Linked DNA regions of Homo sapiens. The protein of the gene in region 1 interacts with the protein of each later gene in a pairwise test. Each region holds a gene or a part of one and is shown on either strand. Other genes may lie near its edges. The genes, in order: STX17, MAP2K4 and TLR2.

Region 1 (3,661 bases):
CCATCATCTTTCCTCACTCTATCCCACCCCACCATATTTTCTTCTCTTCAGAACCCTTGCTTCTTTTGCATTCCTTCTACAATATAATTTCTAGGCTTCTCAATACTGGCTTCTTACTATGCTTATGTTCCATATTCTGAATATTTTCTTGAAATGTGTTACCTAAAATTGAATGCAGTAAATTGTTTGAATTGCTTCTGGATGCCTCTAAGTTAGAAGAAGCAAAATATTTGAAGTTTCTGGATTAGGTATCTGTACAATATTAATATACTCGCAAACAGAAGGAAATAATAGAACAAGAATCCCAAAATATCTGTTGTTTCAGAATCAACATTTATTCAACTATTGTAAACTAATAATCTCTGAATCCAGTGCAGTTTGTAAAACCTATACATGTATGGTTACACAAATATATACACTTGCCAAAAGTCATTGGTCTGTACACATAAAATGTGTTTTAATATATGTAAATTATACCTCAATAAAGCTGATTTTAAAAAACAAACTACACATGTACAAAGTTCTTACTCAGTACAAACACATTTCTTTTCTACTGGGATAGGCACATAAAAGAAATATTAAAGGTCTGTGACCATAAGATAGTTACATGTTTGATTATATTATGTAAGCAGCTCATAACCTCTAATCTAAGGGAGATTTGTGTAGGAAAACTCTGGCTGTAGCCACAGCTCTATACAAATGTCCTGTTTGTAATAATCTGTTTAAGTACATGAGACAGAATGCTAATAAGCAAAAGCTCAAAGGAGAACCCCTGATTATTATTCCCAGGGTGACTAAGTTCTCATGACCACATGGCCAAGGATTCACAGAAGCTCTATTTAGGCACAGAATGACCTAGGAACATAACCAGAGTGACCACATCCTCTCATTATCATCACATGGACATGATAGTGTCTAGACAAATTAACCATGTATTTAAGGAACACTTTCTATCTGCGTAGCACTGTGCTAAGCTTAATGAGGAATAGAAAAAAGCATTTAAAAAACTTACAAGATAGTAATAGTGGTTGCACAATATTGTGAAGTTACTTATTGCCACTAAATTGTACACTTCAAAATGGTTAAAATGGTAAATTTATGTTATATTTATTTTACCACTATAAAAAGAACTTACAAAGCCATTGACAGATCAAGGTATAGTACAATAAATGTTAATAAATTAATATCTACTAGGTACCCTGCTCTATTTTTCTTCAGCCTTTGTTGTTCAAGTGCCCTCTTCTCTCCCTATAACTTTGTAACTAGCCCTATTTCTAGTCAAGGAGAATTTAAAGAACCCTGGGCCAGTAGTTCAGTAACAACTCACCCTTGCTGCTAGTCTGTTTTGACTTCTGCCTTTTGCCTTATTCCCTGTCGTTTTTGTAATCCAGTTTTACTCTGGAAACATAAAAACTGGTTGCAATGGATTAGATCAGATTCCTTCATTTATTACCTATGTGACCTTCAGGATGTTATTTGACAACAATGAGCTTTATAACACTGATGGGAGGACTAAATGAGGTAATGTGTATTATTAAGTACTTCCCATTCTGTTCCCTTCCACTGACCCCAACTGCATTCCCACTTTTGTCCTTCCTTTATTTTCATTCCTTGTTTGGCTCCTTGCAAAAATTCTACTTTTTCCACCACTATTATCCTTAGGCATTTTAGTACTGGAATTCCTTCAGTCCCTTTCCAACTGCTGAATCCTCTGTTAGCAACATCCTACTTATCTACTCTGCTTATTGCTTACTCGAAGCCAATATAATCACTTATTTTGCCTATATATCATAGTATTTATAAGTTTGTTTCTGGGCCTTTTTGTGTATATGATTGCATATGATTAAGGAGTATATAGAATATATCATAGGAGTTTAGAACCAGAATAGCTCAATGTGAACAGGATTGGTCAAGATCTAAGATTAGAACTTGGCCTTGAAGGCTGGCTGGAATTTAGAGAGGAATAAATGGACGTACCTGGAGTTTTGGTATTACCCTCTTAAATAAACTCGTAGCTTTCCAAGAACCTTAAACTTTACAACTACTATCAGAACTCTCTATGGAAGACCACTGTTAATGATATAAATGGATTTGGGGGTTAATTTTTGAATGTATTATTATTGCTTGACATAGAGGATGCTAGGCCTACAAGTGTCCCCAACAGGCATTCAAGAACAAAACAGTTCATTGGTTTTGAATTTATATTCCCAAATTGCATTCTGCTTGACAAGTATAATAAATCACAGTTTATACAGAAACTTAGGTACTCCTATAGCTGTTCGTCAAGATTTGTTATGTTCAGGCCAATAGGGGGACTTAATTCAATGTTCTTTAAAATGAAATCCGTAGACATATTCTTAGAGTCATTTGAGAATTTTCTTTTTCTGTAAAAGGAGGTCAGTATATTACTCTAGCTTGAGAAACACTGCAGTGTAATGAGCTAAACACTTAAATATGGTTTAGCTCATTGTTAAAGGAATGCTGAGAACATATATGGGGTGCCAAACTATAAAATGGCAGGTATGGAATTTGAAGATTGTCAAATGTGGGAGGCCTAAGCAGATGAAAATAAACATGAGCAAATCAGAAGCAAAACCTCAGGGGAGATTGATAGATAGAGGTTAGGAGGCTCCTGCACCACCATTAATGTTTAGAGCTTGATTTCACAGGCTGGGGCAGGGTTGTATATGTATCTTTTGGTCCCACAAAAAGAGCCAAGGACATAGTGGACAGGTAGTGACCCAATTCAGCTCTGTATGGAGTCTGGTTTGGCATTCTGCTGATGGTAATTGACAACTCTGTGACAATAGTTTGCTGCCTAACTGTAACCTTTGTGGGGGTCAGTGAGTCCTCCTTACTCAAGAAGCAGAATTTGAAGATATGGGCAAAGTTTGAAGTTGCAAACCAAGCAAAATACGGACAAGAGAAAGGCAGACGTGCACAATCGAGGGGTGATTATTGATCCCAGGATAGGGGCTGTCTGCCCTCTGCCTTATTCCCACACCCCAGCCCCATATCTTAGCATGCTTTCTGATGGCATGAATAAATACTTATAGATGTGGGCTACTCCCCAGGGTGGGATGGGCCTCATCAAATGCTGGTGATTGCAATGATGGGGAACTTTGTAGTTCAAATAATTAGTGATCTCAGGATTGGTTTTTTGCCTGTGGTTGCTTCTTCAGTTATTCCAAATGATTTTTATGAAAAAATATTTAAATTATTTTAAAATTTTGCTTTAATTTTTAAAAAGTCATAGAAGTACAATATCCAACCCTTTTTAAAGGAAGGAACATTAGAAAGTATTTCCCTGAGGCTTTACGATTACACTTGGGGTATAGAAATGGCAATAATCCTGGCAGGCTCCTCCCTCTTGCTGGAATTATTTTGGGGCTGAAGGAAGGGAGACACTGACTATTTTTCCTCTACCTTTCAACTCATCAACATATGACGGCTGATGGTAGAGTTTTAAGCCTGTGATTTATCTGCTAGCATAGACTGTTTCAGGCAAGAGTGGAAAGTGTTGGGGGTGTCCTAAATAGAAACAATGATAGGGTGTCAGAAATCTAGACAAGTTGTATATTATTAGTGCTGGAACTTTTTCTTCTATGGGTCAGAAAAAGAAAGCTGACTTAAATAAGTTTTGCTATTGAGGAAAATAAAA
Region 2 (3,661 bases), on another chromosome or scaffold:
TCAGGAAGAAAAGGGTTCTCTGGAAGTAGCAGGCAAGTCTTCCCCGCATCCCACTGGAAAAGGGAAGGTAAAACTCACCTTCTACTACAACTGGAGAGGAGGCTGGGAAACAAACAACTTTAAAGCAAAATACCCTGATTGACTGTTACTAGGTAGCAAAAAGAAAGAGGTGAAAAGGAGAGAGAAGAGGTGAACAAAATAGTAATATGGATGGCGAAAGGAGCAAGAAAACAAATTTGTAAGGTATATGAAAAAGAAATCAGTTGGATCTATATGTAAGGTTGTGTTAAAAAAAGTTACATTGCTTAATAAGTGTATAATATATTAAAAATTTTAAGGTATATGTGACTGAGAATGACAGAATGTCGCCAATGATTGCTCTAACACATTAAAAGCTAAGCGCCAGTTTAAGTGTTAAAAAATTCTCAAAACCTGAAATTCTGTCACCAGTACAGAATCTATATAAGTAGCTACAAAGGAGGTGGGAAGGGGATTAAAATGTTCAAAGCATAAGTATAGACTTGTTCTTTGTATCTAATTATGAAGTGACCAGGTGAACGAATTCTGGGGTCTCATCCAAACATCCATCTCTCCACATTATTTCTCACTAAGAAAATACTTGGTAACTCGCCCAGAGTCCACTGACAAGCAAGGTCTAAATTAACTGGAACACACTGGCTCACCTTTTCTTTAGCAATTCTGTAACTTTCTTAACATTATTAAATTAGGGAAGAAGCGTTTTTAGTTAGTCTGTCTAAATCTTTAAGACCTGCAAAAGTCAGAAAGTTAGTGCTTATAGTGCAGATTTGGGAAAGTACCAAATAGCTCCACTAGCTCATACTCAAAGGGTAAGGATGGGCAAAGGGGACAAGCAACAGTCTTGCACAAGAGAAAGATGGTGGGAAGGAAAAATGAGGAAAACTTCCAATATCCTCAACTTTACAAAATGCAAGTTCTTAGTTATGATATAATATTCACTAGTATTCACTCACATATGTTCAATTTTTCTTTTTTTCTTTTTTTTTTTTAGAGACAGGGTCTTGCTGTCGCTCATGCTGGAGTGCAGTGGCATGATCATAGCTCACTGCAGCCTCAAACTCCTGGGCTCAAGCAATCCTCTCATCTCAGCAGGTGCAAGCCACTATGTCTGGCTAACTTTTGGAGTTTTTTGTTTTTTGTTTTTGTAGAGATGGAGTCCCAACATGTTGCCCAGGCTAGTCTCAAACAATCCTCCTGCCTCAGCCTCCCAAAGTTATGGGATTATAGGCATGAGCCATCTCACCTGGCCAATATGTTCAATTTTTGAAGTCTCCCTTGTCTCCGAAATTCTGACTTCCTATTCACTTACTTTAAGTCCTATCTCTGGAGGTACTAGATAATCCGTTGAACCTGTTGATAGTTAACTGGTTACATTTTAAGTCGTGTGTGCCTCACTTTTTTATATCTGGGTGAACTATCTGTACCCTGGGGCTTAATTTGACATGATCCTCCATTTATATTTTCCCCATTACAAGTAGGGGTAAATTTGAGTCTTTTTCATTTTTCCTGGCCCCAGGCAAGTTTAATTAAATCTTAGAATAAATATCAAGAATAATATTTATTTAAGAATTTAAATTCTTAATTCTTGACACTGATGAATCAATATCAAAATGCATAGGACAGAATGCTAGTAAGCCTATAAAAGAAATAAAGCTACATGAGGGTTTTTCCTCCTCCTTTTTCTCTCTACGTATCTCCTACCCTCGTTCCCACATTTGCCCCTCATTCTCACCCTCTTACCTCAATTTTAAGATCTTTTATGTGGCCATAACTTGAAACCTACAATTTACTGTTCTTACCAAATACAGTGAGGTAAGCGGCTGTTTAGGATGTGTAAGTGTTTATAAAAACAAAAAGCAAATGGTGTTCGATAAAGTAAAAAACAAAATGAAGTGTGTTAGGAGACCAGAGTTCTAGTTCCAACTGTGAAACTGAAGTCATTTCACTTGAGTCCTAGTTTTGTCATTTTTAAATAAAGAATATTATCTTAAGGGTTTGAAAACAGTGTGCCTAAATCTAATTTTGCTTGTGTAATGGCCATTATGAGGTTTTGTAGTTATCTCCATTCCCATTCCTCTAGGTTGATAATATAAATCAGAGAGGGTGTGGGGCCGGACATAAGTGGTTTCCTATCTCCTCAGTAGTTGCTTCTGATTCCCTGGACATTCTGGATTTTTGCACTGCTGAAAGTGCATTATGAACTACAATATGAACCCACACTAATGTAAAGAAAATCAGAGCTGCCTTACTGGGTCATGCCCATAAGACCGTGCTACAAAGTCTTTCCTCTGTCACAAGCATGAAGGGTCTATTTGTCTGACACCTTCAAACTTCCAACTTCAAAATTCTGGCATGTGCCTTAAACCACAGCTACCCATAGTATATCATTATGGCTCTAACATGTAAGGCGTTATCTAAACCTACCCTAAATTTGTATTTTCATTGTACTCAGAGCAAGTTCCCCAAGATTTATTTCCTGATGGTTTATTTCTTTCAGATTTCCTTATGTCAACTTTCTGAAACTATCAAAAGGGAGCCACCCTAAGTTAGCAATTCCAGGTTGTTAGAATCATCCACCAGTCAGGAGTTGATAAAATACTCATCAAATCCCTTCCACACTTTTTAAATTCAAGTGTCCTCATAATGCCAGCTCTTTTTCTCTCTTTGGGCAATGACCACCTTATTTATTCTTTGGCCACAAAATTAAATGCCACATTACCTTCTCAAGCCTGTTTAATGAAGCACAGTACACTGAGACAGTAACTTACAATTATGTTCCTTCGGGCAAGTATCTAACTTCTATGAGCCTCAATTTCCTCATTTGTGAAAAATAAAATAATACCCAAAAGAGCTTTGTGATGATTAAATGGGAAAATATATCTAAAATGTCCAACCAAAAGCCTGGACTAAAGCAGGTTATTATTATCACAGGCACTATTATTCCTGTTCTCTCCCTCATGGGAGCAACGATTATGGCACCTTCCCTATCTTTCTGGTGCTCACCAGACCAGCTTAACCTACACAAAACCAGTCTTTCTCCTTTCATTCACAGTCACCTTGAGAGAATTAAAAGGGAAGGACTCCAAACAGCCCTGGAGATCCACACCCCACCCTCTACACCTCTGCCACAACCCTTCCTAGGCACAGCCTGGTATCCTGAGGACTCTAACAACCCCAAAAAGATGGATGCTTCCCCATGACAGGCACATAACCAGATCCCAGGGAAACTGCCAAAATCATCAGGGGAGCTCCTTAATGTCACTGATTTCTTCAGCAAAGCCAGGCAATAAATAGACATAGGCATGTCAGATATATATACATCTGACATATATATATCTCAGATATATATGTCTGGTAACACTTTGCTTGATTCCTCTTTTTTTAAATGTTTGAACAATTTGGTGTCTGTGTGTGTGTGTGTATGTTCAGATATATATGTCTGGCAACACTTTTCTTGATTCCTCGTTTTTCAATGTTTGAGCAATTTTGGGTAAAATGAAATACAATATAGCTCGAAAAAGCTGCTGTGATGTCCATTTTAATCCTCTTTCTCCGTGGTGGAGAATAATGTGTTGTTCTTAAAGAACCAAGCTGCATACAATGTAATTGTTTTCTTCATTCA
Region 3 (2,902 bases), on another chromosome or scaffold:
CATTAGAATACTTGGATCTCAGTGAAAATTTGATGGTTGAAGAATACTTGAAAAATTCAGCCTGTGAGGATGCCTGGCCCTCTCTACAAACTTTAATTTTAAGGCAAAATCATTTGGCATCATTGGAAAAAACCGGAGAGACTTTGCTCACTCTGAAAAACTTGACTAACATTGATATCAGTAAGAATAGTTTTCATTCTATGCCTGAAACTTGTCAGTGGCCAGAAAAGATGAAATATTTGAACTTATCCAGCACACGAATACACAGTGTAACAGGCTGCATTCCCAAGACACTGGAAATTTTAGATGTTAGCAACAACAATCTCAATTTATTTTCTTTGAATTTGCCGCAACTCAAAGAACTTTATATTTCCAGAAATAAGTTGATGACTCTACCAGATGCCTCCCTCTTACCCATGTTACTAGTATTGAAAATCAGTAGGAATGCAATAACTACGTTTTCTAAGGAGCAACTTGACTCATTTCACACACTGAAGACTTTGGAAGCTGGTGGCAATAACTTCATTTGCTCCTGTGAATTCCTCTCCTTCACTCAGGAGCAGCAAGCACTGGCCAAAGTCTTGATTGATTGGCCAGCAAATTACCTGTGTGACTCTCCATCCCATGTGCGTGGCCAGCAGGTTCAGGATGTCCGCCTCTCGGTGTCGGAATGTCACAGGACAGCACTGGTGTCTGGCATGTGCTGTGCTCTGTTCCTGCTGATCCTGCTCACGGGGGTCCTGTGCCACCGTTTCCATGGCCTGTGGTATATGAAAATGATGTGGGCCTGGCTCCAGGCCAAAAGGAAGCCCAGGAAAGCTCCCAGCAGGAACATCTGCTATGATGCATTTGTTTCTTACAGTGAGCGGGATGCCTACTGGGTGGAGAACCTTATGGTCCAGGAGCTGGAGAACTTCAATCCCCCCTTCAAGTTGTGTCTTCATAAGCGGGACTTCATTCCTGGCAAGTGGATCATTGACAATATCATTGACTCCATTGAAAAGAGCCACAAAACTGTCTTTGTGCTTTCTGAAAACTTTGTGAAGAGTGAGTGGTGCAAGTATGAACTGGACTTCTCCCATTTCCGTCTTTTTGATGAGAACAATGATGCTGCCATTCTCATTCTTCTGGAGCCCATTGAGAAAAAAGCCATTCCCCAGCGCTTCTGCAAGCTGCGGAAGATAATGAACACCAAGACCTACCTGGAGTGGCCCATGGACGAGGCTCAGCGGGAAGGATTTTGGGTAAATCTGAGAGCTGCGATAAAGTCCTAGGTTCCCATATTTAAGACCAGTCTTTGTCTAGTTGGGATCTTTATGTCACTAGTTATAGTTAAGTTCATTCAGACATAATTATATAAAAACTACGTGGATGTACCGTCATTTGAGGACTTGCTTACTAAAACTACAAAACTTCAAATTTTGTCTGGGGTGCTGTTTTATAAACATATGCCAGATTTAAAAATTGGTTTTTGGTTTTTCTTTTTTCTATGAGATAACCATGATCATAAGTCTATTACTGATATCTGAATATAGTCCCTTGGTATCCAAGGGAATTGGTTGCAGGATCCTCGTGGATATCAAAATTCATAGATGATCAAGTCCCTTATAAGAGTGGCATAGTATTTGCATATAACCTGTGTACATTCTCCTGTATACTTTAAATCATCTCTAGATTACTTATGATACCCAATACAATGTAAATACTATGTAAATAGTTGTACTGTCTTTTTATTTATATTATTATTGTTATTTTTTATTTTCAAAATTTTTAAAACATACTTTTGATCCACAGTTGGTTGACTTCATGGATGCAGAACCCATGGATATAGAGGGCCAACTGTAATCTGTAGCAACTGGCTTAGTTCATTAGGAAACAGCACAAATGAACTTAAGATTCTCAATGACTGTGTCATTCTTTCTTCCTGCTAAGAGACTCCTCTGTGGCCACAAAAGGCATTCTCTGTCCTACCTAGCTGTCACTTCTCTGTGCAGCTGATCTCAAGAGCAACAAGGCAAAGTATTTGGGGCACTCCCCAAAACTTGTTGCTATTCCTAGAAAAAAGTGCTGTGTATTTCCTATTAAACTTTACAGGATGAGAAATACTAGAGGGTGTATTTTCATGTGATCTGGATCTGTCTTTCTGGCTATTAGATAGGTTTCTCCAGCCATAGTTACTTGAGAGAGTGAGTACACAGTGCAAGGTACAGTAAATTATGTATTTCTGTAATTTAACAAAATAAATACTCAGTTTAGGAGAATTTGAAAGACACTTCCCACATCCGGACTCTGGTCTTCCTCAGCCTCTAACTACCTTTTGAGTTCTAGTTATTGTCCAATCACTCTGACTCTCAGTTCCTGTTTTTTAGCCTATATCTCCTGCATCTTGTTGCTTTTTCCTTCTTCGAAAAGTCTTGTTTTTAATTCTAAAAAAGCCTGCCCTTTTTCCCCTTCTGAATATTTTAAAAAGTACATGTGAGCTAAATAGATTTTTAAGCAAATATATACCTAGAGTTTCCTCATAATGACTCAAAAATAGTTTGATACACAGTAATTTAAAGGTAGATACTACTACCATATGTTAATTTTGCAATCTAGGTATAATAATACCACACATTAAATTTTGATGCAACTTTCTTTGGTAAGCACTATTTGCTGATTCTATGTAACTTTCTTAAGCTGGGAACCATGTGAAAGGAAGTGAGCCTTTGACCCCTGCTCAATTCTCAACCAGAACTGGGTGTATGTGGTTAATTGGGCACTAGAGTCAGAAAGACCTGGGTTAGTAGATGTGTAATCTTTGGCAAGTCAGTTGACATGACCCAAAAAGTTTTTCTGTCTTTAAAATAGGGATGATGATCTCTATATCCTAAGATACTGAGAGTATGAAATGTAGGAATGT

The links.
Region 2: the proteins of STX17 (region 1) and MAP2K4 interact in a two-hybrid assay, tested with the Homo sapiens proteins (one large-scale study listed by BioGRID and IntAct).
Region 3: the proteins of STX17 (region 1) and TLR2 interact in a two-hybrid assay, tested with the Homo sapiens proteins (one large-scale study listed by BioGRID and IntAct).

The regions. Positions count from the first base shown.
Region 1 is NC_000009.12:99,962,035-99,965,695, forward strand, and holds part of STX17 (syntaxin-17), read left to right. Parts: intron 1-3,661. UniProt on the Homo sapiens protein: SNAREs, soluble N-ethylmaleimide-sensitive factor-attachment protein receptors, are essential proteins for fusion of cellular membranes.
Region 2 is NC_000017.11:12,027,284-12,030,944, reverse strand, and holds part of MAP2K4 (dual specificity mitogen-activated protein kinase kinase 4), read right to left. Parts: intron 1-3,661. UniProt on the Homo sapiens protein: Dual specificity protein kinase which acts as an essential component of the MAP kinase signal transduction pathway. Essential component of the stress-activated protein kinase/c-Jun N-terminal kinase (SAP/JNK) signaling pathway.
Region 3 is NC_000004.12:153,703,989-153,706,890, forward strand, and holds the end of TLR2 (toll-like receptor 2 precursor), read left to right. Parts: coding exon 1-1,274; 3' UTR 1,275-2,272; downstream 2,273-2,902. UniProt on the Homo sapiens protein: Cooperates with LY96 to mediate the innate immune response to bacterial lipoproteins and other microbial cell wall components. Cooperates with TLR1 or TLR6 to mediate the innate immune response to bacterial lipoproteins or lipopeptides.